Linked DNA regions of Homo sapiens: regions 1, 2 and 3 are each linked to region 4. Evidence: fine-mapped expression QTL. A gene starts in region 4. Each other region holds a variant in brackets. All regions are shown on one strand. Distances are between the middles of the regions. Region 1 overlaps PER3 (period circadian regulator 3). Region 2 overlaps CAMTA1 (calmodulin binding transcription activator 1). Region 3 holds the start of SLC45A1 (solute carrier family 45 member 1). Region 4 holds the start of VAMP3 (vesicle associated membrane protein 3).

The links. PIP is the estimated chance that this variant, and not a neighbour inherited with it, causes the effect.
Region 1: its variant is fine-mapped to the expression of VAMP3 in whole blood (INTERVAL, PIP above 0.99).
Region 2: its variant is fine-mapped to the expression of VAMP3 in whole blood (TOPMed, PIP 0.97).
Region 3: its variant is fine-mapped to the expression of VAMP3 in pituitary (GTEx, PIP 0.99).

Annotation. Positions count from the first base shown.
Region 1 is chr1:7,827,822-7,836,148 of GRCh38, forward strand. PER3 (period circadian regulator 3) reads left to right here. Exons shown (of 22, transcript NM_001377275.1): 19 at 2,013-2,340; 20 at 7,941-8,124. Among named protein-coding and RNA genes, the nearest start is that of UTS2, 21 kb to the right of the region's middle. The variant T/A (reference allele first, on the strand shown) is at 4,228.
Region 2 is chr1:7,666,673-7,674,999 of GRCh38, forward strand. It overlaps CAMTA1 (calmodulin binding transcription activator 1), which reads left to right. Exons shown (of 23, transcript NM_015215.4): 10 at 4,239-4,365. Among named protein-coding and RNA genes, the nearest start is that of VAMP3, 100 kb to the right of the region's middle. RefSeq lists enhancers at 1,149-1,338, 2,507-3,353. The variant G/A (reference allele first, on the strand shown) is at 3,665.
Region 3 is chr1:8,317,329-8,325,655 of GRCh38, forward strand. It overlaps SLC45A1 (solute carrier family 45 member 1), which reads left to right and starts at 786. Exons shown (of 9, transcript NM_001080397.3): 1 at 786-858; 2 at 6,978-7,398; 3 at 7,970-8,062. The coding sequence starts at 7,002. RefSeq lists a silencer at 616-895. The variant C/A (reference allele first, on the strand shown) is at 4,407.
Region 4 is chr1:7,769,398-7,776,196 of GRCh38, forward strand. It overlaps VAMP3 (vesicle associated membrane protein 3), which reads left to right and starts at 1,899. Exons shown (of 5, transcript NM_004781.4): 1 at 1,899-1,988; 2 at 4,045-4,114. The coding sequence starts at 1,987. It overlaps CAMTA1 (calmodulin binding transcription activator 1), which reads left to right. Exons shown (of 23, transcript NM_015215.4): 23 at 1-309. RefSeq lists enhancers at 1,103-1,799, 1,543-1,592 and silencers at 1,826-2,068, 2,033-2,262.

The DNA of each region.
Region 1 (8,327 bases), 59 kb after region 4:
GATGCTCATTTTCAACACTCAAGTGAGAAAGTGAATATCTTACTAAAGTTAAGGTGGTTGCGTTGGGACTCAGTGCTGACATTCTCAGTAGGTAATCCGCGTGGCTACTGTGAGTGAGCCTGTTAGCCTAATTCTGTGTAAACATGAAACACATCTGCCTGGCTCTGTTTGGAAAGTAGACATGAAAGAATCATCTATGTTCTAGTTTCTTATATACTTTGTGAGGTTTTTTCCAAAGTGCTATCTTTTAAGTTTTCATGTGAACTGGATTCCCTCTACTCTTTAAAATTCGTTACAGGTATTACGCTTAAGTGTTCATTGCCTATAACACGTATTTGTTTACTTACAACCGGGGTTATGGTCAGGTGAGATAGGAATAAGCCATATTGACAATTTAACGATTGTACTTCTTCATGCACAGTCACAGGACAACAGGTGTGTATGAAGAGGTAGGAGCTATTTTATTTGTTATCAGTAGAGTAGGCAGTTTATAGTTTCACACTTAAACATGTCATTTTTTTCAAAACCAAAAGCTTTTTTGGTCTGCTTCCTTTAACTTTTCATCCCTTTACCTAAAAAGCCATTCTCAGGTTTATTTAGCAGGTTAAACTTTGGAATCTGACGTTCCTATATTTAGGTATAGAATCCAAGGCAAGTGTGAATATTTACACAGATTTTTCTTTGACCTTCTCTTTAAGGTACAATACCCTTCTTTAACAGATATTCAAAATCTAGTGATACAAATCAAGAAAATATGCTCACTTTTGAAAGCCTGGTGTGCTTGCTGAAAATCTAAGGGAAGGCAGTATATTACAGTGAGTAAAGCCTGGGCTATGGATTAAGACACGGATTCAAATCCCAGCTCGGTCACTAGTTAGGAAGATTCACTTAGACAAGTTATTTAACCTTTCTTTGCCTGTGTTTCCTTATTAGGAAAATGGAAAGATGAATCCCTCATAGCTTACTCTGAGGGCTAAATGATGTATTTATATAGTACTTCTCCCTATGCAGTAGGTGCTCCTGGAGAGCTGGAACTTTGTTTTGTTCATTATTATATTCCTAGTGTTTGACACAGTGCCTAGAACATATAAATGTTCGATATGTGTTTGCTGAGTGACAAAAAAAAACTACTTGTGGGGTGCCTGGCATGTAGCAGGTACTGAGAAAGTAGTAGTGCCTTAATATTACTTACAAAGGAACTTATTTCTTAGAGATAGGCTGGAACGTTTTTACTTCTTAGTTATATATGTAAATTTTATTCTGTTTAACACACGAAGTTGAAGATCTGCCAGTTACAGTAGTCTCCCTTACCCAGGGGATATGTTTCAAACCCATGGTGGATGCCGGAAACCGTGGGTAGTTCTGAACCGTATATACAGTATGTTTTTTCCTAAACATACTATACATATCTATGGTAAAGTTTAATTGATAAATTAAGAACAGTAAGAGATTAACAGCAGTAACTAATAACATAGAACAATGATAACAATATACTCATCACAATTTCATGGATAGAAGATTCGTTTTTGCCTAAAATTGTAGCACTCTCAGCATATGGGTTTTTCCTTTCCTTCTTGAGAACTTCCACCTTTTCACTTAAATGCAGCACTTTATGACTTCTCTTTGGCATATCCCAATTGCTGGCATCACTCCTCTTGCACTTTGGGGCCATTATTAAGTAAAATAAATGTTACTTGAACACAAGCACTATGATACCACAGTAGATCTGATAACCAAGACGGCTACTGAGTGTGGAGGTGTGAAATAAAGGGATGATTCCTATCACAGGCTGGAAGCAATAAGACAGCTCAAAATTTTATGACACTACCAGAATGGCTGACAATTTTAAACTTATGAACTGTTTATTTCTGGAATTTTCCATTTACTATTTTTGGACCTTGGTTGACCACAGGTAACTGAAACTACAGAAAGCAAAACCATGAATAAAGGAGGACTACTGTATTTTGTGATAAGAAGATTAAAGTGTCTTTTCATGTGCCCTTACTTTCTAGCAGTGTGTTACAGGCAACAATGGCAGTGAGAGCAGTCCTGCTACTACCGGTGCACTGTCCACGGGGTCACCTCCCAGGGAGAATCCATCCCATCCTACTGCCAGCGCTCTGTCCACAGGATCGCCTCCCATGAAGAATCCATCCCATCCTACTGCCAGCGCTCTGTCCACAGGATCGCCTCCCATGAAGAATCCATCCCATCCTACTGCCAGCACACTGTCCATGGGATTGCCTCCCAGCAGGACTCCATCCCATCCTACTGCCACTGTTCTGTCCACGGGGTCACCTCCCAGCGAATCCCCATCCAGAACTGGTTCAGCAGCATCAGGTAGTGGATCAGGACAACTAATGTTTCAAACTCCAATGCCAGACATTCACTATGTGCTGAGCTCTCACTGTGTGCCCCAGGCACTGATGTGGAAGTACAAGGTTTTTTTTTCTTTTTCCCTTTTTCCTTTTTGTCAGGTATATTGGGGTATATTTATACACAATAAAATTCACCAGTTTGAGGGGTACAAACAAGAATTCTGACAGATGTGTACCTTAGTGTAAGCGCTACCACAATCACCATATAGAACATTTCTGTCACCCCAAACAGTTCTGTGACCCTCACCAGTCCATCTCTGCCCTGACCCTTGGTCTCCTGGCAGCCACTGGTTTGCTTTCTGTCACTTTAGTTTTGCTTTTCCTATGATTTATGTATAGAATCAGACAGTATGCTGTCTTTCGTATTCGGATTCTTTCAGTTAGCATGATGCTGTTGAGATGCACGCTCAATAGCATTTATAGCTTAGATCTGTGATCCATTTTGAGTTTTGTGTATGGTATGAGGAAGGGTCAATATACTTTCTTTACATTGGGATATCTAACTGTTCCTGCCGTTTGTTCAAAGGATTAATCTTTCCCCCGTTAAATTGCCGTGATGCCTTTGTTGAAAATAACTTGACCATACACGTGTGGGTGTATTTCTGGACTCTCTTTTCTGTTCCACTGATCTGTATGGCTAGCTTTAGGCCAATACCACACTCTTAAGTAATGTAACTTTCAAGTAAGTCTTGAAGCGTGGTGAAGTAAGTCCTTCAACTTAATTCTTCTTTTCAAAATGATTTTGAATATTCTAGGTCCTTTGTCCATATAAATTATAGACTCCATTTCTCAGTTTCTACAAAAAAGTCTCGTGGTGTTTGGAATGAAATTGTGTTGAATCTATAGATGATCAATACGTGAATAATTATCTTCCTGATGATATTGAGTGTTTTGATCCACAAGTACGATTTTTCTATGTAGGTCTTTAATTCTTCTCAGCAGGGTTTTATAGTTTTCAGCCTACAACCCTTACATATATTTTGCTAAATTTATCTCTAAGGATTTTATAATTGTTGATGCTACTGAAAATGGCATTTTAAATTTTCAATTTGCAATTGTTTGTTGTTAGCATATAGAAATTTAATCAAATTGTGTATTTTTAACTTGTATTTTGCAGTCTTGCTAAACTCATTGATTAGTTTTAGTAGCTCTTTTTAGATTCTGCAGGACTTTTCTACATAGTCTTTATTATCTGCAAATATAATTTTACTTCTTTTTTTCCGTCTGTATGTCTTTATTTATTTGTCTTGCCTCATTGAACTGGCTAGGACCCACAGTGAAGTGTTTAATAGAAATAGGAAAATAGACACTTGCCTGGTTCACAGTCTTAAGGGGAAAGCAGTCAGTGTTTCACCATTAAGTACGATGTTAAGTATAAGTTTTCCTTGAATGCCCTTATCAGATTGAGGAAGTTCACTTCTATTGCTGCTCCACTGAGTTGCCCTTTCTGCGTCTGTTGAGATAATCATGTGGTTTTCCTCCCTTATTCTATTAATATGGTGAATTACATCAGTTTTCTGATAATAAATTAACCTTGCATTTGGTCATGCTCTTTTATCCTTTTTTATATGTTGTTGGATTATCTTCCTAATATTTTGTTACGCATTATTGCATCTCTGTGCAGAATATTGGTCCATTTACTTTCTTTACTTGTAATGTCTTTGTCTGGTTTTGGTATCAGAGTAATTCTGGCCTCAAAAAATGAGCTAGGAACTATTCTTTGCTATTCTGTTTTCTGGAAGAGTTTGTGTTGAACTGATATTATTTTTTCTTTGTAAGTTTGGTAGACTTTACCAGTGAATCTTTCTGGGCCTGGAGTTTTCTTGGTGAGGAGGATTTTAACAACAAA[T/A]TTAAATATTTTAATATATATGGGTCTAATCAGGTTATCAGTTTCTTAGTGATCTTTGGTAATTTGTATCTTTCAAGAAATGTATCTATTTTATCTAATTTGTTGAATATATTGGCATAAAGTTTTTAATATTCCCTTTTCCTTTTAATGTCTGTAGGTTTTATAGTAATGTACCCCTCTTATTGCTGGTATTAATATTTTTCCTGATCAATCTGACTGTATGTTTATCAATTTTAATAACTTTTCAAAGAACTTTGGATCTCATTGGGGTTTTTTTTCCTATTGTTTTTTGGTTTTTTATTTTATTGATTTATGCTCTTTTTTTTTTTTTTTTTTTTTCCCTGGGACAGAGTCTGGCACTGTCACCTGGGCTGGAGTGCAGTGGCACGATATTGGCTTACTGCAACCTCCACCTCCCAGGATCAAGCGATTCTCCTGCCTTAGCCTCCCGAGTAGCTGGGATTACGGGTGCCCGCCACCACACCCAGTTGATTTTTTGTATTTTTAGTAGAGACGGGGTTTCACCATGTTGGCCAGGCTGGTCTTGAACTCCTGATCTCATGATTCGCCCGCCTTGGCCTTCCAAATTGCTGGGATTACAAGCATCATCCACCGTGTCCAGCCTATGCTCTAATTTTTATTACTTCTTTTCTCTTTACTTTGGATTTTATTTTTTTTTTCTTATTTCTTAAGGTAGAAGCTTACTTGTTAGATCTTTGAATTGAGATTTTTCCCCCCCAATATAAACATTTAATGCTATTGAATGCTCTAACCATTGCATCCCTCAAATTTTTTTTTTTTTTTTTTGGAACCAAGGTCTCACTCTGTTGCCCAGGCTGGAGTGCAGTGGCATGATCCCAGCTCACTGCACCCTCAAACTTCTGGGTTCAACAATCCTCTGGCCTCAGCTTCCTGAGTAGCTGGAACTGCAGGCATATGCCAGTGTACCTGGCCAGTCTAAAATATTTCTAATTTCACTTGTATTTTCTTCTTTGATCTTTTGGTTGTTTTAGAAAGGCTTAATTTCCTAATATTTGGAGATTTTTTTTAGATATTTTTATTTTATTTCTAATTTAAATGCAGTCAGAGAACATTCTTTTGTATTTTTTAAATTTACCAAGACATTGTGTAATGATCTGGAATTTGGTCCATCATGATAAATGTTTCATGTGCATTTGAAAAGAATATGCTTTCTGCTGTTGTTGAGTCATGTGTTCTGTAAATGTAAATTAGATCAAGTTGGTTGATAATGTTGATCCAACCTTTTCTAACTGATTTTCTATCTGTTTTATAAGTTATTATGATATGGTTTATATGTCCAGCTATAAATGTGAATTTCTCTATTTTTTCTTATAGTGCAGTGAGTTTTTGCTTCATGTATTTTGAAGCTCTTTTATTAGGTGCATATACACTTGAGATTATTATATCCTCTTGATGAATTGCTCTCTTTATCCTGAAATATGTCTTGCTTTGAAGTCTGCTTTGTCTGATATCAGTGTATCCAGTCCAGCTTTATTTGGTTAGTGTTTACATGGTAAATTTTTTTCATCTTTTTACTTTCAACTTATCTGTGTCTTTATATTTAAAGTAAGTTTCTCGTAACCACCATATAGTTGGGTATTGCTTTTTATTCATGTGACAGTCTCAGCCTTTTAACTGCAATGCTTGCTTAGATTATTTACATTTAATGTGAATATTGATATGGTTAGGTTTAAGTTAAATCTTTCATCTTGCTACTAATTTTCTGTTTGTCTCATCTGCCCTTTCTTTTTTTCCTCCTACCCTCCTCCTTTCGGGTTAATTGTGTATTGGCTTCTAAGCATAACTTTTTTTTTGTTTTTGCTCTAGGATTAACTTTTTATTTATTTTTATTTTATCTTATTTTTTTCTTTGAGACTGAGTCTCACTCTGTCACCCAGGCTGGAGTGCAGTGGTGCCATCTTGGCTCACTGCACCCTCCACCTCCTAGGTTCAAGCAATTCTCCTGCCTCTACCTCCCAAGTAGCTGGTACTACAGGCGTGCACCACCACGCCTAATTTTTTGTATTTTTAGTATAGACGGAGTTTCACCATGTCAGCCAGACTGAACTCAAACTCCTGACCTCAGGCGATCCGCCCGCCTTGGCCTCCCAAAGTGCTGGCATTACAGGTGTGAGCCACCACGCCCAGCCTGCTCTAGGTTGTACAATGCACATCTTTTACTTATCACAGTTTACCTTCAAATATTATGCCTATTGTATCACTTTATATATTAGAACCTTAAGACGGAGTACTTCCATGTCCCCTTTGTCTTTTGTGCTATTTTTGTCATACATTTTAACGTGTAAAAAAACCCACAATAACATTGTTATTATTTTTGCTTTAAACAGTAACAACCTCTTAAAGTTGTTTTGTGTGAGTGTTTTGTTGTTGTTGTTGTTGTTTTGACACAAGGTGTCACTCTGTTACCCAGGCTAGAGTGCACTGATGCAATCATAGCTCACTGTAGCCTCAAACTCCTGGGCTCAAGCAATCCTCCAACCTTAGCCTCCTGAGTAGCTAGGACTACAGGCATGTACCACCACACTCAGCTAATTTTTTATTTTTATGGAGATGGAACCTACCTCACTGTGTTGCCCAGGCTGGTTTCAAACTCCTGGCCTCAAGCAGTCCTCTCATCTTGGCCTCCCAAAGTGCCAGGATTACAGGTGTGAGCCACCACGCCCAACCTAAAGATATTTTTTAATGAGGAAAATTTTTTTATTACTTTTTTATTTACATACTTAGTTTTTTAAAAAAAATTAAACAAATAGTTTTGTTTTGTGTTTTTAATTCCTTCAAAGTCAGTGAGAAGGTTCTAGAAGGGTCAAATGCAAGATAGGAAAGGAATGATCCATAAGGCTTCATATCAGCCATAAAGGGATGGTCCTTGGGATGAACAGTTTCTGTGTTGTGGCAGGAGGAAGGTGAGGAGGGGGTACATATATCATTAATTGTGTATGTTTGGTATCATAAAGGTGATTAATTTGCTTTCTGATGGCTTCTTTTTTCCTTAAAAAATAGGTGAGATTGAGGCAGGAAATAGAGAGGTTGAAAATAGTCATTGCTGGGGGTAGGTTAGTGCATGACCAGAGAACTGTAGCAGGATTCCCAGGTATTTTGATGGTGCATTTGAGGTTGGTGATGATGCGTTTATTGTAGAAACACTGTACCCTGTTATATGTGACTTTCTGTATGTATTTGGCGACTTGGGTTTAGGTAAGAACAAAGTCAATAATTGGCTTTATTGGAGTTGGCATTTTGACAGTTATGAAAAGTCAGAGGGAAAAAGAAGTCTAAGGTATTGCAAGGTGTGTTACTGAATGATGAACTGAGGACTCCACTACAGGAAGACTAAGACGTTATTAACACATTTATAGTTGAAATAATTGAACAAGCCCATGAGAGAGTGAAGCTGAGATGTTGATGATTTTGGAGATGGAGCGGTTATGGGTGATGATAAAGGACAATGTGTGTAGCCTTGAGAGTGATAGCTCATTAGGAATGGAAAAAGAGATCTCAGGAAGACCAAAGAACCAGGAGGCTGTCCACAGGGAGGAGGAAGTTTCCCGGAAATGATGGTTGGGCTGGCTGAGGAGGAGGACTGTCCGAGGCAAGAGTCTGAAGAATGAGAGCCAGTTTGGCAAATCAGTCGGACAGGTCTTTTCTAATTATGTGTTGTTGATTTTTGACAGGAAGCAGCGACAGCAGTATATACCTTACTAGTAGTGTTTATTCTTCTAAAATCTCCCAAAATGGGCAGCAATCTCAGGACGTACAGAAAAAAGAAACATTTCCTAATGTCGCCGAAGAGCCCATCTGGAGAATGATACGGCAGACACCTGAGCGCATTCTCATGACATACCAGGTACCTGAGAGGTAAGAAAGCACTTTAGAAAACCCACTTTTTATATTTTTGTGGTTTCTTTTTTTCTTTTTTTTCTTTTTTGAGACGGAGTCTCGCCCTGTCACCCAGGCTGGAGTGCAGTGGCACGATCTCAGCACACTGCAACCTCCATCTCCTGGGTTCAAGCGATTCTTCTGCCTCAGCCTCCCGAGTAGCTGGAATTATAGATGTGCAC
Region 2 (8,327 bases), 100 kb before region 4:
CCACGGCCCACTCGGCTGGAGAACACCAAAGAAGGGGGCTCATACTTCCTCACCCTTCTTCCCCGCTGGCAAAGCTAAGAAAATCTGTGTACAGACACCCCCAGCTCTCCCATCCCCGATAGGAAGAGCCCGGAAGGATCAGACTGGGCTTCCTCTTGGTATAGGTTGGTGTGACCGTGTTTCTGACCCCCCTGCTGTTGTTGTTTTGTTTTGTTTTGTTTTGTTTTGTTTTTGAGAAGGAATTTCACTCTTTTTGCCCAGGCTGGAGTGCAATGGCGCCATCTCGGCTCACTGAAACCTCCGCCTCCCAGGTTCAAGCGATTCTCCTGCCTCAGCCTGCCGAGTAGCTGGGGTTACAGACACACCCTGCTGCATCCAGCTAATTTTTGTATTTTTAGTAGAGACGGGGTTTCACCATGTTTCCCAGGCTGGTCTTGACCTCCTGGCCTCCAGTGATCCGCCCACCTCAGCCTCCCAAAGTGCTGGGATTTCGGGCATGAGCCACCACACCCGGCCCTGACCTCCTAATCTTATCAGTGACTCTGAGCTCAATGGCACCTTCGGAGTGCCCACCACACCCCCCACCCCACCCCATGAAGGCCAGTTGGGCATCTTCCCCGTGCCCCCTGACCCTGGGCTTAAGAAAGCGATGCAAAGGGACAGGGAGGAGGCCAGGATCAGGGTGCGGGGGGACGGTCAGAGCTGTCTTCTGGTCCTGGCTCCTTGAGACCTGACTCTCTGGGGCTCAGTTTCCTTACGTGTAAATGGCTGAGAGGGGGTGGCCTCGAGGCACTCCCAGTCCTAGGACCTGGGAGATTTGGTCCTCGGGACACTTAGAGGCGCCCTGGAGCCCTTAATGTCTTGCAGAAGCCAGGAGGTGGGAGGAGGGTCCCCTCTTTTCCCGAGGTCCTGGCCTGTCAGACAGGCCCTGGGCTGGGTGCAGACCCACACCCCAGCCTCCTGGGTGTCCTGGCGAGTGGGACATTAGCAGGCCTGACTCCTTCTGTCCTTTCTGGGCCTGCAGTTCAGCAGCTCGCCACACGAGGGCGGCCCAGGAACAGGAACGCAATGGCAGCCTGGCAGCCTGGCAGCCCAGCAGAGGGAGCGGCCAGCCTTGCTTTTCCAGAAGCCCTCAATGCTTCCAGTTACCCACAACCAAAAGCTGCTGAAATTCAGCTTGATTTGGAAAATGCGCATAAGCCACCCAGCTAGGCCCTTTGGGGCCCCACCTGGCCACACAGTGAGGCCTCAGAGGTTGTGAAGGGCCCCTTCCTCCTTGCTGTCCTCTCCTACCCAGGCCACTGTCTCCACACCACAGCAGGGGTGCCCCCATCCTGGGTTCTACAGGAGAGAGCACCTTCTCTCTTGACACTTCTCTCCCTTTGTCTGGCCCTCGTCCTGTCCCCTCCCTGCCAGCCTGTCTGTGCACTGACTGCATCAGGAGTCCAATCTGGCCAGGTTCTGCCAAGCTCAGGGAGGGCTCTACAGGCAGGCTCGTCGGCCTGGGCCCTACTTCCCAGTCTGCAAAATGGGGTTTGGCTAAACGGTTACTCAGCACCCCCACCCAGCTCTAAACCTCAATGCATCTACCTAGCAGGAATGCGATGGCCGGGGCCATCCTGCTGTCTCTTCTCTGAGTGGCCCTCCCTCCCACAGGCTGCTCCCATTTCTCCTATCTCTGTCCACCCCTTCACCTCCAGCTGCAGCTGGTCACCAACACACACACACACACACACACACACACACACACACACACACACCCACCACACACCCCAGAGGCGTCCCCCTATGCCCCAGCATCTGCCCTGGCTGCATCAGACATGGGCCCTTTATCTCAGGACTCAGAGACCTCAGATGGCATTTCGTGCCCCCTCCCCACCCCCAAAACCCTCCTGCGTCATCTCCCACCACTGACACTCCTGCTGCAGCAGCAGAAGAGCCTGCAATTACAGCCTCAGGCACGCGCGTCACCACCAGTTCAGCGCAGCCAGGCGGGCTGTTGCCATGGGAACCATCCCTTGAATGGATGGATGCTGAGCTGTCCTGCGGCGGTTTCCATGGAGAAGGTCCTGATGTTCTCCAGTAATTTCTGCAGTTCTTTGTTCCCGGCAGCAGCCCCAGCCTCATGCTAGCAGCTGTTGATTGCGGTTATTATTTTTTCCCTTTTTCTCACATGGTAACTGTCTGTGGCCTTTTGAAGTCACTGCTCTTCCACTTCCCAGGATCCTGGGGGATGGTGCCCTGAGCTGGCCTTCTGGTGCTTCCAGACATCCCAAAGTCAGGCTCCACCTGTCCGCCGGCACTCTTCTCAGCCAGGCACCCACTCCCCCCAATGCCCCGCCACTTCCACGGAGCTGCAAATATCCCTGGGCATCAGAACAAGGGATGCTGTGGTCAGAAGGGCCCCTAGCAAGGAGATGCCACCCAGAGAGGCTGGGCCACTTGCCTGAGGACACACAGCTACTGAGGCGCAGGAGCAGGCCTCCTGCTTTTGTTTCTCGGTCCTGAGCTCTCTCTGCTGCCGTAGCAGTAAAGTGACCTCCCAGGCCAGAGCCAGGCTCATGCAAGAGCAGGGGTGGAATATGCTTTCCAGCCTGGGAGAGCCCCTTCCGTGGAAGAAGTCTCTTTTCCTGGCTGGGCAATGGGAGGAGCTACTTCCACCTCATCCCTGGAAACACTCACTCCTGCTGCAGATGCCCTGGGCCAGGCCTGGGTTCCAGGAACATTGTGGGGCGCCTAGGGCAGGCTCCTTGTAGAGGCCGGGGCTTCCTCCAGGGCAGGGGTGGGCCAGGGCCCAGGAGAGGCCAAGCAAGAATGAGTGACTGACCAGTAGGGAGCATCTGGTTGGCACGGAGTTGGGGGGTAGGGAATCACTTCTCTGGCCTGGAGCAGTGGGGAAGGTGGGCTCACAGCAGCTCCTCACCCCCACCTCCCAGGCTCCAGCCTGCCTGGCGGCCTTCTCCAGCCTGGACACTAGGTGGTGCTCTCCGCCCTGACCTAGCAGCTCTCCGCCCCACTGCAGGGAAAGGTGTTTACTGGTTTGGGGGTGGGGTGGATGGCGCCTCTGGGGTGGGTCCACCCAAGGTTAGCCAGGAGAGTCCGGGAGGCCGGCACCCCTACCTTCCTCATCCCCAGGGAGAGCCTCCCTCTACTCAGTGACCAGCCCCTCTCCTCGGCTAAGCCGTAAGTAGGGGACCTCCAAGGTGCCGTCCACCTCGCACCTCCCTCTCTCATCACTAAGCAGGACAATGGCCATGAAGCAGGACTGCCCGGGCCCCGGACATGAGGCCACCCTCCTCCTCCACTTTCTGCAGCAGCCCCAGGCTGGTCGGAACGGGGAGTCAGGGAGTACCCCAGCCCTTCCGATGCTCTCCTGCCCCTGGGCGCCCTGGGAGGTTCCTGAGGGTGGGGTCCTCCCCCCTGGAGCTGAGGAAGGTCATTCGAGGCTGCTCCCAGCCAGGCTGCATGGTCACTGCTTGCTTGTGGGACCCCAGGCTAGCTGTGTAGGCAGTGACACAGACTCAAGGACCTTTGATAGCACAGGGTTGGGGGAGGGGGCAGATGCTCAGCCCCGTTCCACTCCCAGCCCCAAGCTCTGAGCCCCAAACTCAGCTCCCAGGGCAGTCTCTGAGCGTCTCCTTCACTTAGCTCCTTTAGCTCCTCT[G/A]TTTCTTCATCGGGCTCTTCAGCCCGTCCTGCTCCAGCCCCTCACCTTGCCATCCCCACAGCCTGGGGATCCTGGGTCTCTCCTCAACTCCCTACAAGAACTTCTGGTCCCTGGGCTGACACGGAGATGCTCAGGCCTGTTTTCAAAACTTGGAGTTCCCTCAGTCTGTCCACAAGTGAATGACGGAGCAAGTCCCCTCCCTGCCCTCGGCTTCCTTCCAGGCCATTTCTCAGGGGCATCGTAGGCTGAAAGGGTTTGCAAAACTCTGCACTCCCTCCTGCCTGGATCTGCGAGTTACACAAAAGGGAGAAGGTCAGGGGTTGGAGCTGCCGGTCCTGGGGCTTCCTGAGGGGCTGGGGAAGGAGCGCCTTGGGCTCTCCTCTTGCTGTAGTCCTGGAGCTGTGGTTCTCAGAAGTCGGGGCTCACTGCAATCCCTGGAGTGAGGGCCTGGGAATCTGCATGGGGCGAGGGGTACAGACCCCCATCTGAGCAGTGAAGCCTCAGGGGGGCTTCCCCATGCTGCCTCCCACAGTGGCTCACACTCCAACTCTGTTCCCCTCTCTGTTCTCTGCAGGGAGGAGTGAAGGTCCTCATCACAGGCCCGTGGCAAGAAGCCAGCAATAACTACAGCTGCCTGTTTGACCAGATCTCAGTGCCTGCATCCCTGATTCAGCCTGGGGTGCTGCGCTGCTACTGCCCAGGTGAGAAAGCCGCCCCCCAGGCCCCCAAGGTGAGTGTGATGGCCTGAGGAGCACTGGACTCGGAGTTGGCCTTGGGGTGACCTTGAGCAGGTCATGTCCTTACTCTAGGCCTCAGTTTCCTCGGCTGTGAAGAAGCGGATCCCCGATAGTCTATTAGAACGTCACCTCCTTTGGCTCAGGGACCTAATATAGGACAGGGACACAGGCACGCTTGACTGGGATTTTGAAGCGAATGTGATGAGAGCACGATTTAGGGCAGGAATAAGCCAGGCCCAGGCGATGTATCCAGGACTGGCCACAGTGGGAAGCGGCCACCACCCTCAGCCCAAAGGGTGACTAGAGCTGGTAAGAGCTGGGGCCAGAGACCACCTCTGCAGCAAGGCGGCCTCTCTGCACCTGCCCGTGCCTCCCATGGCCCAAGCCAACCAGAAGCCAGGAGAGCCCAGGCAATGCAGCCCACACACAGGCTCCATCCTCCCGAGGGCCCTGGGCAGGGGGCAGAAGGCTGGAGAAAGCCTGGCAGGGGCGGAGGGAGATGGGGTGGTGATGGGAGGTCAATCTAACAATAATCAGCACAAATGCCTTTGAGAATGTAAAACAGAGCCATCTACCCTGTGCCCAGAAAAGGTGCATATAATTTGCTTCCAATTTCAGGGGCTCAAAAATCCCCCAAGAAACCCTTGGGACAGCCTCTGTGCTGTCCCTGTGCCTCTGAAGCCCTTCCCCAGGCTCCAGCATTATCTGCTTAGCACGGTGTCCCTGTCTGGTCAACTTGTCATTGATCTCTGGCCATCACTGCTTCCCCACTCGCCTGTCCCATGGGGTCAGGGACTATCTTCTTGATCACCATAGTATCCCCGGGGCTGGCAGAGTGCCGGACATGTCACAGAGGGGGATGGAGATTGTGACGGAATGAATGAGTCTCCAGGCATCTGAAGCCTGTTTCTAGAGCTCATGTCTTCTGCTCCTGGGCTGTTGCTGGCAGGACTCCCTTGGCTGCCCCATCTCATCACCACCAGCCCTCAGGATGGCCTGTCCAGTGAGCCCTGACCATAAACAGGAGGGGGGTAAGGATGCAGGGGTGCGGAACGGCAGGGAGACCCACCCCTGTCCTCTAACGTCAGGGAGCCTAGAAAGGAGAGAAGATGCTCAGTGTAGAAGACTGGGGGTGAGGAGGAAAGGTACGGGGTGGGAGTACAGAGCTGGCCAGTGCTAGGCAGGCCCCAGGGTGTTTCTAGGTTCCACCCAAGGTGGTCCAGCCTGAGCCTTGGCTGCCCCAGCTGTCTGCCACCACCACCCCACCCTTGAACCATGCCCCCAGGCTGGGCCAGCTGAGTCCCACCACCCATTTCTCCTTTTCTCCTTCTCTCTCAGGCTCTTCTTTTTGTTGGTTTTTTTGTTTTGAGATGGAGTCTCACTCTTTTGCCAGGCTGGAGTGCAGTGATGCAATCTCGGCTCACTGCAACCTCTGTTTCCTGGGTTCAAGTGATTCTCTTGCCTCAGCCTCCCTGGTACCTGGGACTATAGGCTTGTGCCACCACACCCAGCTAATTTTTGTACTTTTAGTAGAGATGGAGTTTCACCATGTTGGCCAGGCTGGTCTCGAACTCCTGACGCAAGTGATCCGCCCACCTTGGCCTCCCAAAGTGCTGGGATTACAGGGGTGAGCCACTGTGCCCCATCTCTCTCAGGCTCTTCTTGCAGCCACCAGAGCAGAAAACCCCTGCTCCACAGCTGGCTGCACACTCCGCCTCTGCTTGAACCCAGCACCATCTTCCCCAAAAAGTTCCCAGGAGCCAGTGCAGCAGCCCAAGGTGCCCACCCCACCCCCTGCTGGCCCAGCCCTCCCCTCCCAGCCCCCACCTGCCTGGCTCCAGAAGGCCCACCTAGCTGCCCTGCTCGGCCTGGAGCACAGCCAGCCGGGGTGGCAGCCAGGCCGGGTCTGCCTATCACAGCTCAGGGCTGTGTGCAGCTGATGGGACCCCGGCCCGGCGGGAGTGGCGGGGAGGGCACTGTGGAATTAAACAGTGCACCCATCATCTGCTGCCAGAATGCGACTTGCCTGGCCTATAAATAGATGCCACTTCCTGTACCTGGTTCTCGCCTGGCTAAGGACCAGGGCAGGGCTGCTTAGGTCTGCTCTCAGTTATCTGACCCCTCTACAGAAAAAGAAAGGCTGGGCTTTGTGTGGCCCCGGGGCTGGAGTCAGCCACACTCGGGTCCATCCCAGATCAGCCAGAAACCATCCCTGTTGCTGGAGCTCAGTGCCTGACCTCTCTGGGCCTCAGTTTCTACAGCTCTGAAAACTGCCTGCCAGCAGGGCGAGAGCAGTGAGTGAGAGGAGGTGTGTGAAGCACCTGGCCCAGTGCTCCATTCCTGAAGGGTTCCCATTAAGGAGGCCTTCGCTCTTCCTTTCCCAAGGGGGAGTTCGGAGAGGGTACCAGGGCAGTTTGGGTCTCAACAGGCAGTTCTCCTGGTCCTGGGGCATTTCTGGGTCCCCAGAGATGGCAGGTAGAGTCTCTGCCCAGGCCACTCACCCTCCTAGCTGTTCAGGCTCATTATATGAGCCATAATGTGTCTCGGACCAAGGGACCAGGAGCCACAAGGCTCAAGGCACACTGAGAGCTGGGACTCCCCTGCTAGAGCCAGCACTCTGTCTTCAGCTAACTCCACAAAGGGGGCCTCCTTTGGACATCTCTGCTTTGAGGCCCAAATTGGAACACATTGCTCTGTAAAACAGCACTGGATGTATTAATTCATTCATTCATTTCTTCATTTGCCAAATAACTTTTGAGTAGCCCCTGCTTGCTCTGCACAGAGTAGGGGCCTGGAATGGAGCAAACAATAAGACCCAGCTTCTCACCGGGCCCCTGATCGTAAGGGGCTCTCGGTCCAGGGAGGAGTGCAGTGCGCAAATGAATCACTGCTCCGGAGATGACGCTGGCTGCTTGGGGACCTCATCTTTGGGTCTCCCCAGAGGAATCTGAGGCTGAGCTCGAAGGATGAACACTTGGAAGTCAGAATCAAACTGGCCTCACCAAAAAGAGAGGCTCAGAGGCTTATGAGCACAAGCCAGGAACGACACGGGAGGAGGGGGCACTGGCAACACAGTTGGCCAATGCCCACCCGTCTCCCAACACACCTGCCCAAGCAAAACAGATGAGCAGGGTCCTGCCCTGGCAGCTCCCACACCGTCACAGGTGGCAGGAGACACGCAGGCACTGAGTGTGTCTTCTGCAAGACTCCAGGGTGCTTCAGGGGCAGGAGGGAGCCCACCAAGTTAGGGCAGTGAGCTGAGGGCAGTGAGCAGCAGTGAGTGAGAGGAGGTGCTGGGGAAAAGAGGCGACTCAGGCTTGGGAGAAGATAGGGGAATCCACCAAGAAGACTCTACTGGCCAGAGAGCCCTACTCTGGATTCCTAAGAGGTCACCAGAACACAAAAGATGAAATTCAAAATGAAAGCCAGGCACAGTGGCTCATGCCTGTAATCCTAGCATGTTGGGAGGCCGAGGCGGGCGGATCACTTGAAGTCAGGAGTTCGAGACCAGCCTGACCGACATGGTGAAACCCCGTCTCTACTAAAAATACAAAAATTAGCTGGGCGTGGTGGCAGGCACCTGTAAGCTAGTAGGGAGGCTGAGGCAGGAGAATCACCTGAACCTGGCAGGTGGAGGTTGCAGTGAGCCAAGATCACGCCACTGCACTCCAGCCTGGAAGACAGAGTAAGACTCTGTCTCAAAAAAACAAAAAGCAAACAAACAAACAAAAACAACAAATGAGGTGTAGAATTGGGTTTCAAAACAATTCATTCAACAAATAGTTACTGAGCCGCCATAACATCCTGGGCACTGACCTTGGCACTAGGCATGAAGATTAAGACAGAGCCAGTCCCAGCTCTCATGAGCTAATGTTCTACTGCAGGGAGACAGAAAACAAACAAGGAGAAAAAGAAATAACCAAGAT
Region 3 (8,327 bases), 550 kb after region 4:
CGCCAACAACCTGATAGAAACCTGCAAGGCCAGCGCCTCTGCAGCCCCACACTCCCTAACCCCTTCTCTAGGGCATTGCCATCTTCTGACATACCATTTATTTTATGTCTTGTTTAATGTGTGTGTGTCTCTCTCTTAAATGTCATGCAGCCGGGTGCGGTGGCTCACACCTGTACTTTGGGAGGCCGAGGCAGAAGGATCACTTGAGCCCAGGAGTCGAGACCAGCCTGGGCAACATAGCAAGGCCCTGCCTCTCTGTATTTTAAAAAATGAAGTAAATAATAAATACATAAAGTATTTATGTATTTACTTACATTACAAAGTTCCCCCAGGGGCGGGAACTTTGCCTTGTTCTTGCGGCATCCCCAGTGCCTTGGACAGCTCCGGGCCCAGAGTCGCGACGCCTCCAGCAGGCCCGGCTGCCCCACTGCGCACATGGGCACAGGCTTGGCACACGCACTGCGGCATTCACGTATCCGCGAACACATGGGTATCTATTTATACATGAAGACACGAAAATGTATTTATTTCTTTTAAAATCAGAAGAAAACGGTGAGAACTGTGAGGCCGGGGGGACGTTTTCCTCCGGGATCCTGGCAGATCCTGCAGACCGCGCCGTCGTGCGCGAAGCACCGGGACGGGCCTCCCGCGGGAAGGGCCCAGGAGGACACCGGGCTCCCCTCCCGCCCGCGGGGCCCCAGACGCGGCGCCGCTTTAAGGCTCCGGGCCCCGCGCGGATGCGGAGGCTGCGGCCGTGACGTCAGCGCCCCGCCCCGGGTGATGCTGCAGCAGCCGGGACCGCGGCCGGGCAGGCAGCAGCCCAGCGGGGACAGGGATGCCTGCCGTCTCCACCCACAGGTACCACCGTCTCCTCCGCGCCCTCCGCCCGCTCTCTGGCTCCGTGCCTGCCGGGGCGCCGCGCCCTGGGCCCCGGGGTAGTCAGGGCGCCGAGACCGGGACCCGAGGCCGGCACGGAGACCTTTGTTCCTCGTGGAAGTCTCATGAATTGCAGAGTCCACGGAGCTCCCCCGTCTCGCCCCTCCGAGGGCAGGAGCCTCGGGCCCAGGGGAGGGTGCCGGCCAGATGGCAGGTGCTCTCATCCTTGCTGGCAAGGGGAGGAGACCCCGGCCTTGGCCCCAGCTCCTGATGCGCTCCTTGAGCCGGAGGCCTGGTCCCTAGTCACCTGGGCAGGTGTCATCCGCTCCCGGCTCACCTCTTGCGTGGGGCTGAGCCCTCTTGTTGACCAGGGGCCTGGCAACGCCCCTCAGCATCCCAGGGTTACTTAGCGAGGGCACCGAGGACTCCCCTTTCCCGAGCGAGTCAGCACCAAGGGGAACGCGCTGAGGTGGAAGCCGTTCAGCTCCTTCTGCCCTCGACAATCAGCAACTTCTCTAATTATTTCTAGAGTGACAGCCGTGCATGTTTTTCAGCTCTTACAGGGAAGCAGAGTCAGGGGCGGAGGAAAGCCACGTTCAGGCTGCACCTGGCCTGGGCTTTTGGGAAAAGTTGGCCCTGGAGTAGGGGTCAAGCTGCCGGAGATGCAAAGTGGGAAACGGCCACGATTCAGTAACTAGCCTATTAAGTGCACCCTCCCAAGTCCGTAGAGCACCTTCCTGGTCCTGGAGGACCTCACTGAAGAATTTTGAGAATGGGTAGAAAGAAGCATGAGGGGTCGGGCGCGGTGGCTCATGCCTGTAATCCCAGCACTTTGGGAGGCTGAGTCGGGTGGATCACCTGAGGTCAGGAGTTCAAGACCAGCCTGGCCAACATGGTGAAACCCCATCTCTACTAAAAATACAAAATTAGCCGGGCGTGGTGGCACATGCCTGTAATCCCAGCTACTTGGGAAGCTGAGGCAGGAGAATCGCTTGAACCCAGGAGGCGGAGGTTGCAGTGAACCCAGATCATGCCACTGCACTCTAGTCTGGGCGATAGAGTGAGACTCCGTCTCAAATAAACAAATAAGCAAATACGCCCTAGGAAGGGAGGTGGCCCAAGGCAACCCCGTGGGGGGAGCTCATTTTCATAACGAGAAGAAAGAAATGAGGAAATGGTTTCCGCTCGTAGTAGGATCATTGTAAGCATTCAAACTACATTGACATTGATTACTTTTATTAATCATTTGCCGCTTAAACTTCCCACAACACAGTTTGAGGAATCTGTTACTTTAAGCATCCTCTGTACTCTGGAAGCACAGTGGACCCCTTGCATAGCCTTCGGGGGATCCAGGGAGATGAGTGGATTTCCTTTTGACCGAGTAAATGGTCATATGGTACAGTAAAGATGGTCTGGCGAATGTTTGTATTTGTGCATGAAAATTAGATTTTATGATCTTAAATTCCACTTTCACCCATTTTTATGGGAACCTTAAAAATGGATTTTTGTTGTTGTTGTTGTTGTTTTTTGAGACAAGAGTCTCACTCTGTTGCCCAGGCTGGAGTGCAGTGGTGCGATCTCAGCTCGCTACAACCTCCACCTCCTGGGTTCAAGCGATTCTCCTGCCTCAGCCTCCGGAGTAGCTGGGATTACAGGCACTCGCCACCATGCCCAGCTAATTTTTTGTATTTTTAGTAGAGACGGGGTTTCTCCATGTTGGCCAGGCTGGTCTCGAACTCCTGAGCTCAGGTGATCCACCCACCTCGGCCTCCCAAAGTGCTGGCATTACAGGCGTCAGCCACTGTGCCCGGTCTCAAAAATGAGTTTCTAAAATTCTTCTTATGATAAACATTTGTGAACAGTTTTTACTAAATGTAGTTTTAATAAAAATGGTAATGCTGATCCCCAGATTTGAAGATGAATCCTTAGTAAAGACTTCTTCTGAGCCAGGATTAAGCTAGGTTTAATTCTGGTTCAGATGCTAGAGAGAAGTTCATTGAGTGTGTGAGGATCTCCCTTCTGCTAGGACAGGCTGCAGTGGGGTGTGGCGGAGGTGGCAGTAGAGTTGTCCTCTTGCAGGTAGAGAAGTGGGCCGTCTACATAGTCCACTTTAAATAAGGTCAAAGAGGCTCCTCTTTTCAAAAAGACACTTCAGGGGCTGGGAATGGTGGCTCATGCCTGTAATTCCAACACTTTGGGAAGCCAAGGCAGGTGGATCACTTGAGCCCAGGAGTTTGAGGCCAGCCTGGGCAACATGGCGAAACCCCATCTCTACAAAAAAATACAAGAATTAGCCTGGTGTGGTGGTGTGCACCTGTAGTTCCAGCTATTTGGGAGGCTGAGGTGAGAGGATCACCTGAGCCCAGGGAGGTTGAGGCTGCACTGAGCGATGATGACTGCACTCCAGCCTGGGCTAGATAGAGGGAGACTCTGTCTGTCTGTCTGTCTGTCTGTCTCTCTCTCTCTCTCTCTGTTTCTCTCTCTCTCTACACACACACACACACACACACACACACACACACACACACACCTGCCATATGCTGTTTAAAGCTGAAGTTTTTCCAAACTGGGCCACAGTTCTTCATTCCAAATTTAAAGGGAAGGTTTCTAATGCACTTAAGTTCACATTATGGTTAAAATGCTGATTAGAAAGAGTGGGAGATATGCCTGTGTGCCTGCAGGTGGGGAGAGGCTGGGCAGAGGGACAGAAAGGGAGATGGCCACTGAGAGCATACGTGGGGCTGTGACCTTTGGGCGGAGTCCGATCCAACCGTCCACCTCACCTGTGCTGGGTCTCGCCTCTGACTCTGAAGGAGATGGTCTTACACAGTGTTGGAACTGGCGCTCTATTTCTGTGCTTTTGATGAATGAAGCTCCAGGGGATGCTAACTGCTGCTTGGGGTTTTGAAAGGAAGACCTGCCAATCACCAGGTTTTACCATGCAGAAGTGCTTGAGCTAGGCCAGTGAGGAACATAAATAAGCTTAGCTTCTTAAACATGTTAATCTTGATTTACTCCTTATAAATGAATTCTATTTCAAATGAAGTATTACTTGTCTACATGGTTCTTAGGTTCATCTGTTCTCTTCCTACAGGAAAGCGTGGTATTTTCCAAAGCCACAGGATAAGTCTTTTATAGAAGTGACAGGAGACTCTGTCTCTGCTATATCACTCCCTGTCACCTTGGAATAAAACCCATCTCTTAGCAAGGCTTCAAGGCCCTCCATGATTAGCTAAGACCTTCCTGAGGGCTTCATCTCTCACCCCACCCCCACTGTGCCCAACTGTTACTCATATCTGTCTTTTACCCAATGATTCTACCCCCCAGGAAGGCCCTTTCCTCCACCTTTTTACCTAACTCAAGGACAAGAACTGTGTCTTTTATCTCTCTTATCTCAGTGTCTTGGTACTCAGTACTCAGATGAATTGGAGGCTGGGTAGGTGAGTGGGTGGATGAGTAAATGTTTGGAAGGGGGGATAGGTAGATGGGTGAGTGGAAGGATGGATAGAGGAGTGGGTGGAAGAACGGGT[C/A]GGTGGATGTGTGGATAGTTTTTGGATAGACAGATGAATAGATGAATGGAAGAGAGGATGTGTGGAAGGATGGATGGGTAGATGACTGAGTGGAAAGATGGATGAATGGATGTGTGGGTGAGTGGATGGAAGAGTGGCTGGTGGATGAATGGGTGCATGGATGGGTGGGTGGATGGATGGATGGATGGGTGGGTGGGTGGATGGATACGTGGATGGGTGGGCAAGTGGATGGGTGGATGAGTGGATGGGTGGGTGGATGGATGGATGGATGGATGGATGGATGGATGGATGGATGGGTGAGTGGGTGGGTGGGTGGATGGATGGATGGGTGGGTGGGTGGATTGATAGGTACATGGATGGATGGGTGGGTGGGTGAATTGGTGACTGAGTGGGTGGATGGATGGGTGGGTGCGTGGGTCCATAGTTACATGGATGGATGGGTGGGTGGATGGATGGATGGATGAGTGGGTGGATGGATGGGTGGATGGATGGATGGGTGGGTGGGTGGATGGATGGATGAGATGGATGGATGGATGGATGGATGGATGGATGGATGGATGGATGGATGGATGGATGGATGGATGGATGGATGGATGGATGGATGGATGCATGGATGGATGGATGGGTGGGTGGGTGGATTGATGGATGAGTGGGTGAGTGGATGGATGCATGGATAGTTGGGTGGGTAGATGGATGGATGAATGAGTCATTGGATTAACACAGTGTTCTTTATCCTGCTGGGATGTCTCTAGATCCAATCATTTTCACCATTGGTGTCTTCCAAAGAGAAGAAAGACAATCTCTGAGTGGGTGGGGTGGTGGAAGAGTTTTGGATACAAATCTGGAGTGAGGAATTTCAGAGTGATTCATAAATAATTTATTGTCTAGTGATAGTGTGATGGAAAGTGGTATGGTAAGTTAATGTCAGGAAAAAAGTGGCTTACTTTTGAAGCTTAAAACTAATTTTGAGAGAAAGCCCGTGATATTTATCTTGGTCAATGACAAGCGCCATCATCAGAAATCAATGTTGGGAAAGTTGTCCCAGTTTGGGGCCTACGTCTCAGGAAGGACTTCAAAGGGAATTTAGTCTGTTGCTTTTTTGTGGAGCAGGTGGGCTGTGTCTGAGAGAATCCTGGAACCCCCCACCCCCTCTGTTATGTTGGTATCTGTCTCTTTCCCTCTGATCTGAGCAGCTTTTCTCTCCTTGTGCTTATACAAGTGGACATCGGCTAAAACACACAAGCTAACATATTAGAATCCATTCTGTTAATATTAATAATCCAGATTAATTTCAAAGCAGTGAAAAACAGTTCGACACTTTGGAACCGGTGCCTAAGTGGTGCAGATTGCAAACCCCAGCTGGGCAGAGGACAGCGCGGGAGGGGAGTGGAAGGATGTCTATCTGGGAAGGCCTTGAACTTGCTCTCTCCTTACCTAGGTCATGGGCATTGTGAAAATGTTTAAAAAGTAAGTTGAGGCTGGGCACGGTGGCTCACGCCTGTAATCCCAGCACTTTGGGAGGCCGAGGTGGGCAGATCACGAGGTCAGGAGATAGAGACCATCCTGGCCAACATGATGAAACCCCGTCTCTACTAAAAATACAAAAATTAGCTGGGCGTGGTGGGGGGTGCCTGTAATCCCAGCTACTTGGGAGGCTGAGGCAGGAGCGTGGCTTGAACCTGGGAGGTGGAGGTTGCAATGAGCCAAGATCAAGCCACTGCACTCCAGCCTGGGCGACAGAGCAAGACTCTGTCTCAAAAAAAAAAAAAAAAAAAAAGTAAGTTGAAGCTGGGGGGTGGGGATCTGTTTCTCAGCTCTCCCTGGTTCTGTCCCTCTGCATTCGCATGTTGTCTGTGACTACGGGATTCCAGAGTTCGGCTTATTAAAGAAAGCATTTTCGAACACTGTCAAAGCCTCAGTTCTCCCCACTGGACTAAAACTCACTTGTCAATGGGTGCTGAAGGAAAAGGGTTTGTGTTAAGCCCATTCAGCTGCCTTTAGGGAGAGTGCCCTGGCCTACCGCGAAGGAGGGAACACAAGCGTTAGGGAGTGGAGAGGACTGGCTCTGACTCTATCTGGTGACAGAGGAGCTGTCCCCGCAACGCGAGGAAGCACTCAGGGTGCCGGGGGGGTGGTTCCTAACCATGCCCAGTCTCTCTTCCTCTCTGGTCCCCTGGGACCTTCAGGGAAGGGCAAAATTAGCCCTGGAAATGGGCCGCAGGTCCTAAAATAGCCTGGTGTCCTTGGAGGCCGGAGAGGAGCTGAGAGGCTCTCACTTCCTCAGGACAGTCCTGACCGAGCCTCTGTTTGGGGGATGGTCCCTTTGAGTTTGAGGTGGGGACCTGCAGGACGGGGGTCCTCTCTCTGAGTAGGGAAGGCACTGGGCTTTGGCCTCCTGGGGCAGAGGAGCTGCAGATGGGAAAGTGAGGCCCCGGAGCATCAACCATGAGCAGTGCATTCTGCTTTCGGGGGATGGTGTTTGACTCTAAATTCTGCAGTGTGAACTCAAATGTTGGGGGAGGACTACCCAGGCAAAAGTAACTGTGGCCTCCCCACGGGCTTTCCTCACAGGGACGCCCACCAGCCCTCCCCACGATGATCCCCGCAGCCAGCAGCACCCCGCCGGGAGATGCCCTCTTCCCCAGCGTGGCCCCACAGGACTTCTGGAGGTCCCAGGTCACGGGCTACTCGGGGTCCGTGACACGACACCTCAGTCACCGGGCCAACAACTTCAAACGACACCCCAAGAGGAGGAAGTGCATTCGTCCCTCCCCACCCCCGCCCCCCAACACCCCGTGCCCGCTTGAGCTGGTGGACTTCGGGGACCTGCACCCCCAGAGGTCCTTCCGGGAGCTGCTTTTCAACGGCTGCATTCTCTTTGGCATCGAGTTCAGCTACGCCATGGAGACGGCGTACGTGACCCCGGTGCTCCTGCAGATGGGCCTGCCCGACCAGCTCTACAGCCTGGTGTGGTTCATCAGCCCCATCCTCGGTGAGCCCCGGCTCCTCCCCGATGGTGGAGGGCCTCTGGAAGCCTCCAGAAGCCTCATCGCAGTAGCCTGAGGGTCCTGAGGGGAGAAGGGAGGATCAAGAGTTAAGTTCCCTTCATCAGTCTGGGACTGTGGGGAACACAGGTACCACCGGTCATATCCCAGATTTTAAGTTCCTTATCGAAAGCAGACAATAGAACAGGGATTTAGCAGCTCCCCGAGGGCTGACACCGTCTGATGCCAGGCTCTCCTTGTTGGAGGGTCCAACTCATAACGCTTGGTGTCATGTGAGCCTGGAAGGTCCTGAAATTTCTTGGATTCCCAAGGAAAGTCGTGGCTGCTTAGGGCCTTAGGGTCCAAAGTGGAGGATTTAAGGAGATGCTGAGCAATCCCCAGAGTCTGCTGAGCTTTGGTTTCCGAGTTCAGGGTTTTGTCACTGACTGTTTCATCATCTTATTCTTTTGATGCACTGGGGGTGTTTGAGAGCAGGCACTTCAGGAATGTGGAGGCTGATTCGATGTCCCCATGTGCCATGGGGACCCTGGCAATGACCGCTGGCCTGCTCTGTTTCAGGATTCCTACTGCAGCCTCTGTTGGGTGCTTGGAGTGACCGGTGTACCTCAAGGTTTGGAAGGAGACGCCCTTTCATTCTTGTCCTGGCTATAGGTCTGTTGTTTTGGCATGGAAATAAAATGGAGAGGAAAAAAAAAAGGCCCCAACTGCTTCCTTTTAGGAAAATTTTAAAAAATGTTGACCAAAGCAGTTACCCAGATAGCTCTGGGCCCGCACTGGTGTGAGGCAGGGAGTGCCCCGCAACCTGGCCTCAGTTAACTGTGAGAATAGATCGCTTTGATCATTTTTAAAAATTGAGTTGATAAAGTTCATCTCATTTCTTCTCTGCTTAATGAAATAAAAACCCCCATCCAAGTGC
Region 4 (6,799 bases):
AATAAAGACAATAATACGAACCCCTCTCTGGCTGCACGGTCGCTTATGGCAGTTCCACACAGTAGTTGGCGCCCAATGGGGGGTCCCTGAGACTTGCATGTAAAACTAGTCTAGATGTCTTCTTTTTTTGTAAGTTTTATTTTTGTAATTGTGCATGTAAAGCATCATTGAATCAATGGATCTGTTGAAGAACTCAGCTGCTGGAAACCATGCAAAATGTTTTGAATTGCCCTTAAAATATGGAAAATGTTTTCTGAATGCTTTATATTCTTTCTGCTGTAAATTAAAAATGAAGAAAATTTCCCCATACTACGTGTGTGTTTTGCTTTAATATGACCGGGTAGTGAAATCTAAGGTGATGGGCACATGTTTCAAAACATATGTAATAATGTCAAGGATTTCCTTCTGATCCAGATGTAATGTTTTGACATTGAATGTTACATTGTTTCAGCTAGGTCCATGAAAGAAAAAATGTCTTCCAGCCACCATTCAGAGAGCTTTTCCCCTATCTTTCCAGGCACCTCTCAACATGTCAATCATTTGTGTAAGGCAGTGCAATTATTTGAAAGATAAAGACATTAATTTAATTCACCTTTTCAGTTACAATCCTCTAAAGTCTTCTAAAAGGCATTTTCCAGCAGATTACGAACGTCGTCCTTTCTGAGTATTGTGTCATCGCCGCTCCCTTCCCGTTCACTGCAGAGCCTCTCCTTATCTCCCTAGTGCTCCCTCTTCCATCTAATCCATCTGGCCACTACTGCCAGAGAAATTTTGCATCATGGATCTCCCACGTCCGTAAGTCAATGGTTTCCAGGGCCCACTACAATTAAATGACATTTTTCTTGTTTGTTTATCCTCTTTATTCAGTCTTCTTTTCACTTGTACCCAACCTGCACCCTCTAGGTGGTCTGTGCACACTGCGTCCATTTTCACTGCTGTCTTTGTTCATGGTGTTTGCCCAACCCTTACTTGGAAAGTTCTTTTCCACTAGTACCCAGCTCAAATCCCACCGCCTTTGTGACACTCGTTTATTCGATATATACTAACGTTTCCCTTTTCAAAGTATTCTATTTAGAGTTGGAAAAAACAGCATAGTATTTAAGTACTGTATTTTTCACTTCTCATCTAAGAGACCCACCAATGACCTATTAGTGTTTTATTTTTTGGTGTAGGTAACTATGTTGGTAGGAATATTTCAGTAACAAATATATACAAGGTAACTCACTGCGTTCAGATTTGTGCTTCCCTCCCTTCGACCAAAACCTGAGGACCTATTCTGTGCTAGGGCCTGAAAATACAGAAATAAAGGAACTACAGCCTTGATGCCAAGGCTCTCGTAAGCAGATTATAATATGATCTGCAGTGACAAATATTTGTGTCACCGATGAAAACATGAGCGGGAACCTCACCCAACACCATGTGACAAATACCCGAAATGGACTTCCTATTTCAACTACTTTAGAGAAACATGGTGCCCTCAGGATCACTAGGTTACTCTGGAACACTCAGCAGAAGCCAGTCATCTGTCTCTAATACTGTTAGAAATGGTCCCGAGCCCAGAATAACATGAATTGCCCCCACCCTCACTTATCCACGCAGTCCCTCGCCAGTGGCTAATGCACCACGTTTACAGACCACGTCCCCAAGCGCCAGCGCGGACGGCGGTGCGGACAGGGAGCTGTATTGACCTGCGTTCTGCGTTTCAGAGCCCGGACCGCCCTGGGACCCCTGTGGCCCTCAAGTTCCCAAGTGACCTCGTCCGGGGAGGGGACGTCTCGCTCTGACCCCGCCCTGGACGCACCCACCCACGACGCCCCCGCCCACTTCCGGCGCGCCCCCTCTTCGCCCCGCCCACTCCCCCGGCTCCGCCTAGTGACGTCTTTGCCCCGCGCCGCGCCGTCCCACCCATCTCCCTGGCCTCCGGTCCCAACTTCGCTTCTCTGCTGACCCTCTCTCGTCGCCGCTGCCGCCGCCGCAGCTGCCAAAATGTGAGTGACGCTACGCGACGCGGGCGGCTTCGGGCCCCGCAGGCGGCAGCTCGCGCTGGGACCGCCATACTGCCCAGTTGCCGCCGGCCGCCACTCGGACGCAGGCCGGGGCTGCGCGGGGATCCCGAGGCCTGGGGGTGGGCGGTGGCCCTTGGGTCGCGGGCTGCAGACGGGCCGGGCGGGTCCCGCGGCCATCGGGCGGACGCGGAAGGGGCAAGGGCGGGGCGGCGAGACGCTTCCCGGAGGAAGTGAGCTGCCCGCCCGCAGCCCGCTCCTCGCCCCTTCCCTTTCTAGTCCCCGACGTCCCTGAGAGGAATGGGGACGACAGCCCTGGTTCGGGAGCGCCCGCTCTCGGCCCGGTGCTGCGCTGGGCCCCAGAAGTTGCGAAAGAAAGGACCTCGGCCCTGTCCTGAGCCCCTGTGGGCCGAAGAGCTCCTTGCCTAGCTAGGGGCATCTGCACTGGAAAGATCACTTAACCGTGGGCCTTCGCTCTCTTAAGCGAAAGCACGTTGCAAACCCCTGCTTCCAGTGGTAAGACTCAGAGAATGCTAATGGTTAAGAATCACAAGGACTCCCTCTTCCACCTCCATTCTGCTCATTGCTCACCGTCGGAGGAAGCCCCGGGTTTCTTCCAGGAGCTGGGGACCCCCCTCGAATGTTCCTGCTGAGGCTGCTGTGCCAATAGATCACAGTGGTTAAGATCTAGAGCCAAGGTACACAGGACCTGATCTAAAAACAAGCTGTCCTGCAGCCAGCTGTGTTGACTCTCTAAACCTCACTTTACTCATTTGTAAAATAGGAGTAATATTCCCCTCAGAGAGTTATGAGGGTTAAAGGAGGAAAAGCATGGAAAGAGTCTAGCGCCACGGCATGGTCCTTACTTATCTACCAGATACTAAACTCCGTGAGGACGGTGATGAGATCTGTTGTAGCCCTGGTCATTGACACATGACAGATGTAAAGTGACTGTTCAAACAGCCCATCAGACTGTTGTATACCAAGGCACATGCTAGGTGCTATCTAGGATACAGAGAAGAGAGTAAGAAGACCCAGGAACCTGTGATCTATTCGAGGAGGCGGGACTTTATACCTGAAAAACCAAAGTGATACTTTCCAAGTAATGGAGCCAATAATGACTTCAGAGTCAGAGTGGTTAAGAAAGATCTGCATGGGGAGAAATAAAGCCTTTGATGAAGATTTTAAAAGATGAGTACCTTCCTGGGCCGGGCGCGGTGGCTCATGCCTGTAATCCCAGCACTTTGGGAGGCCGAGGTGGACGGATCACTTGAGGTCAGGAGTTCGAGACCAGCTTGACCAACATGGTGAAACCCCGTCTCTACTAAAAAATACAAAATTAGCCGGGCGTGGTGGCACATGCCTGTAATCCCAGCTGCTTGGGAGACTGAGGCAAGAGAATTGCTTGGACCCAGGAAGCGGAGGTTACAGTGAGCCGAGATCGCGCCATTGCACTCCAGCCCGGGCAACAGGAGCGAAACTCCGTCTCTCAAAAGAGGGGGAAAAAGAAAGAGTACCTTCCTAAAAGAGGAGGCATTTCTTCAACACACCTTTCCACTCACACCACCCACTCCCTGCATCCCAGTGTTCCTGACTCTGTTTCTGTAAATTAATCTATTTTTCCATATTGGAAAAAGGGCATTCTGTAACTGTTTGTAACTATGAAAACAGTTCCTTCCACAATGAAAAGATCAGGAAAGTACTGAGTACATTCAAGCAGATGTGTGCCTTAGAACAAGTTTCAAAAAAGGACAGTAGAGCTTACCTATCGTGGGATCAGATACTTCAGGGATACAAAGTAGGTCCTATTAAAGCTTAACATTTGTCCCTTTAGTAGGTGGGACAGTCTTGGAAATTATAGAGAAATTAGAAGAAATGCAATTAAAACTTTCGTTCATTGCTTCAGGAAGAATTTCTTTTTCTGTTTTAGTTCTAATGTAAGAGATTGTTAACAGTGAGAGTCCCGGAGTAACATCTTTATACTTAAGAAAATGTATTTGGAATCGTAATGTACTCATGCTCATGCCTTTACATGTTCCAGGTCTACAGGTCCAACTGCTGCCACTGGCAGTAATCGAAGACTTCAGCAGACACAAAATCAAGTAGATGAGGTATTGCTCTGAAATGTTGGAAATATGAATTTTAAACAAATATGAGTACTCTGGAAATCTGTTTAGAAAAAGTATCATCAAAGTGTGAATGTAAAGCAAATTCTGACTGTATCATAATTGTAACGAAACTTTGCTCCCTGCTGTGCTGGAAGATCTAATCTAAGCAAAAGTCAGACTTTCTAGGTTTCACGCTTGTTTTCCTGTGATAGAAACCTGCTCATAACATTTAGCTCAGGAGAAATAAAAAATCATATGCCTAAAACATGAACATCACTCCCTGAGTGCATTCCCCAAGAAGCACTTTATAAAATCGGATAATACAATGTTAAGGATTAGGTCTTTAGATTGCTCAAGCCAAGACCAGTTCTTCTGATCAGATTTTTTTATCAAAATGCTTTGTCTTCTTACTAATTGTCCAGCCTGAGCAAGCCTCTCTGTAGAATTCATCTCTAATGGTTGTCCATTGACACACACAAAGTAGATACTGTCAAACTCCATTAGCTCAGCAAATCTCTGTTTGTAGAATTCTTGAGCTAGAGGACCTCCATCTTTTGTTCTGCGCCGTATGTGGAGAACCACAGCAGAAGATTGAGAAATTCAGACTAGTGTTTCCACATTCCTAAAAGCCGTCACTGTCCGACAAATATATTTCGGTCTTTCTGCATTTAGCTGCCCTGAAAAAACAGTTAAAGTTATGTCAGATACTGTTGTTAAATAATATAGTAATGTTTTGATCTGATGGTTTTGTTCATGAACTTATACAATTTTAGATTTTCACAGTAAGAAACCCATTGTAATTCTGTCCTGCCTGGAAATTCTGTTTACTTACAAAATCAAATTGGATTTTTTTTTTTAGCCAAAGGAATTTTAAGGAGAGTTGTTTTTTTATTGAGGCAAAATTACCATAACATACAACTAAACATTTTAAACTGTATATAATTGAGTGTTATTTAGTATATTGATAATATTTTGCAACCATTACCTCTTTCCATTTTCAGAACTTTTTCATCACCCCAGAACACCTCATGCCCATTTAGTAATCATTCACTATTTCCCCTTCCTCCCATTCTCTGGTTACCTCTAATCAGCTCTCTCTTTCTGTGGATTTGCCTGTTCTGGGTATGTCATATAAAAGGAATCATACAATGTGTGGCCTTTTGCATCTGCCTTCTTTCACTTAGCACAAAGTTTTTTGCATTCATTCAAGTTGTAACGTGTTGTACCGTGTTCCTTTTTACGGTTGAGTAATATTCCATTGTATGTGTATACACAATTTGTTGAGCCATCCATTTGTTAATGAGTCTTCGAGTTGTTTCCACCTTTCAGCAATTATGAATAATGCTGTTATAAATATTCACAGGAAAGATTTTGTTTAGACATAGGCTTTCATTTCTCTTGAATGTATACCTAGGAGTAGCATTGCTAGGTCATAGTAGCTGTATGTTTAATTTTACGAGGAACTGCCAAATTGTTTTCCACAATAGCTGCACCATTTTATTTTCCCACCAGCAATGTCCAAGAGTTCCTGTTTCTCCACATCCTTGCCAACACTTGTTTTCCATTTTGATTATAACCATCCTACTGAGCTCTTTGGGTTTTCATTTGCGTTTCTCTAATGATTAGTGATGTTAAGCATCTTTTCATGTGCTTATTGGCCATTTGTATGTCTTTGAAGAAATGTCTGTTCAGGCTTTGCCCATTTTTTAATTGGGTTGTTTGAGTTGTGAGAGTTTTTTATGTATTCTGGATATTAAATCTTTCTTTATCAGACATGTGATTTGCAAATACTTTCTCCCATTCTGTGGCTTGTCTTTTACATTTTTTTTATTTTTTTTATTTTTATTTATTTTTTTTGAGACGGAGTTTTGCTCTGTTGCCGAGGCTGGAGTGCAGTGGTGCAATCTCAGCTCACTGCAGCCTCCAAGCCCCAGGTTCAAGTGATTCTCCTGCCTCAGCCCCCAGAGTAGCTGGGATTACAGGCGCCCGCCACCTTGCCCGGCTAATTTTTTGTATTTTTAGTAGAGACAGTGGTTCACCATTTTGGTCAGGCTGGTCTCAAACTCCTGATCTCAGGTGATCCACCTGCCTGGGCCTCCCAAAGTGCTGGGAATATAGGCATGAGCCACCGCACCTGGCCTGATAATGTTCTTTGATGCACAAAAGTTTTTAATTTTTATGAAGTCCAATGTATCTGTTTTTCCTTTTGTTGTTCTTGATTTTGGTATATAAGAATCCACAGTCAAATCCAAAGTAATGAAGATTTACCCTTATGTTTTCTTCTAAGAGTTTTATGGCTTTAGCTCTTACACTTAGATTATTGATCCATTTTGAGTTACTTTTTGTATATAGGGTGAGGTGGGGATTCAACTTCATTCTTTTGCATGTTGGCTCTTCAATTGGCCCAGCACTGTTTATTGAAAAGACTGTTGGATGGCCTTCGCACTCTTGTCAAAAATCAATTGGCCATAGATGCTTAGGTTGACTTCTAGACTCTCAGTTCTATTCCATCAGTCTATATGTTTGTCCTTATGCCAGTATCACACTGTTTTGATTACTGTAGCTTTGTAGTAAGTTTTGAAATTGGGAAGTGACTTTGGGGAGTACTGCCCTCTTAGCAATATTAAGTCTTCCAGTGTGTGAACATAGGATGTTTTCCCATTTAATGATGTCTCTTAACAATTTCTC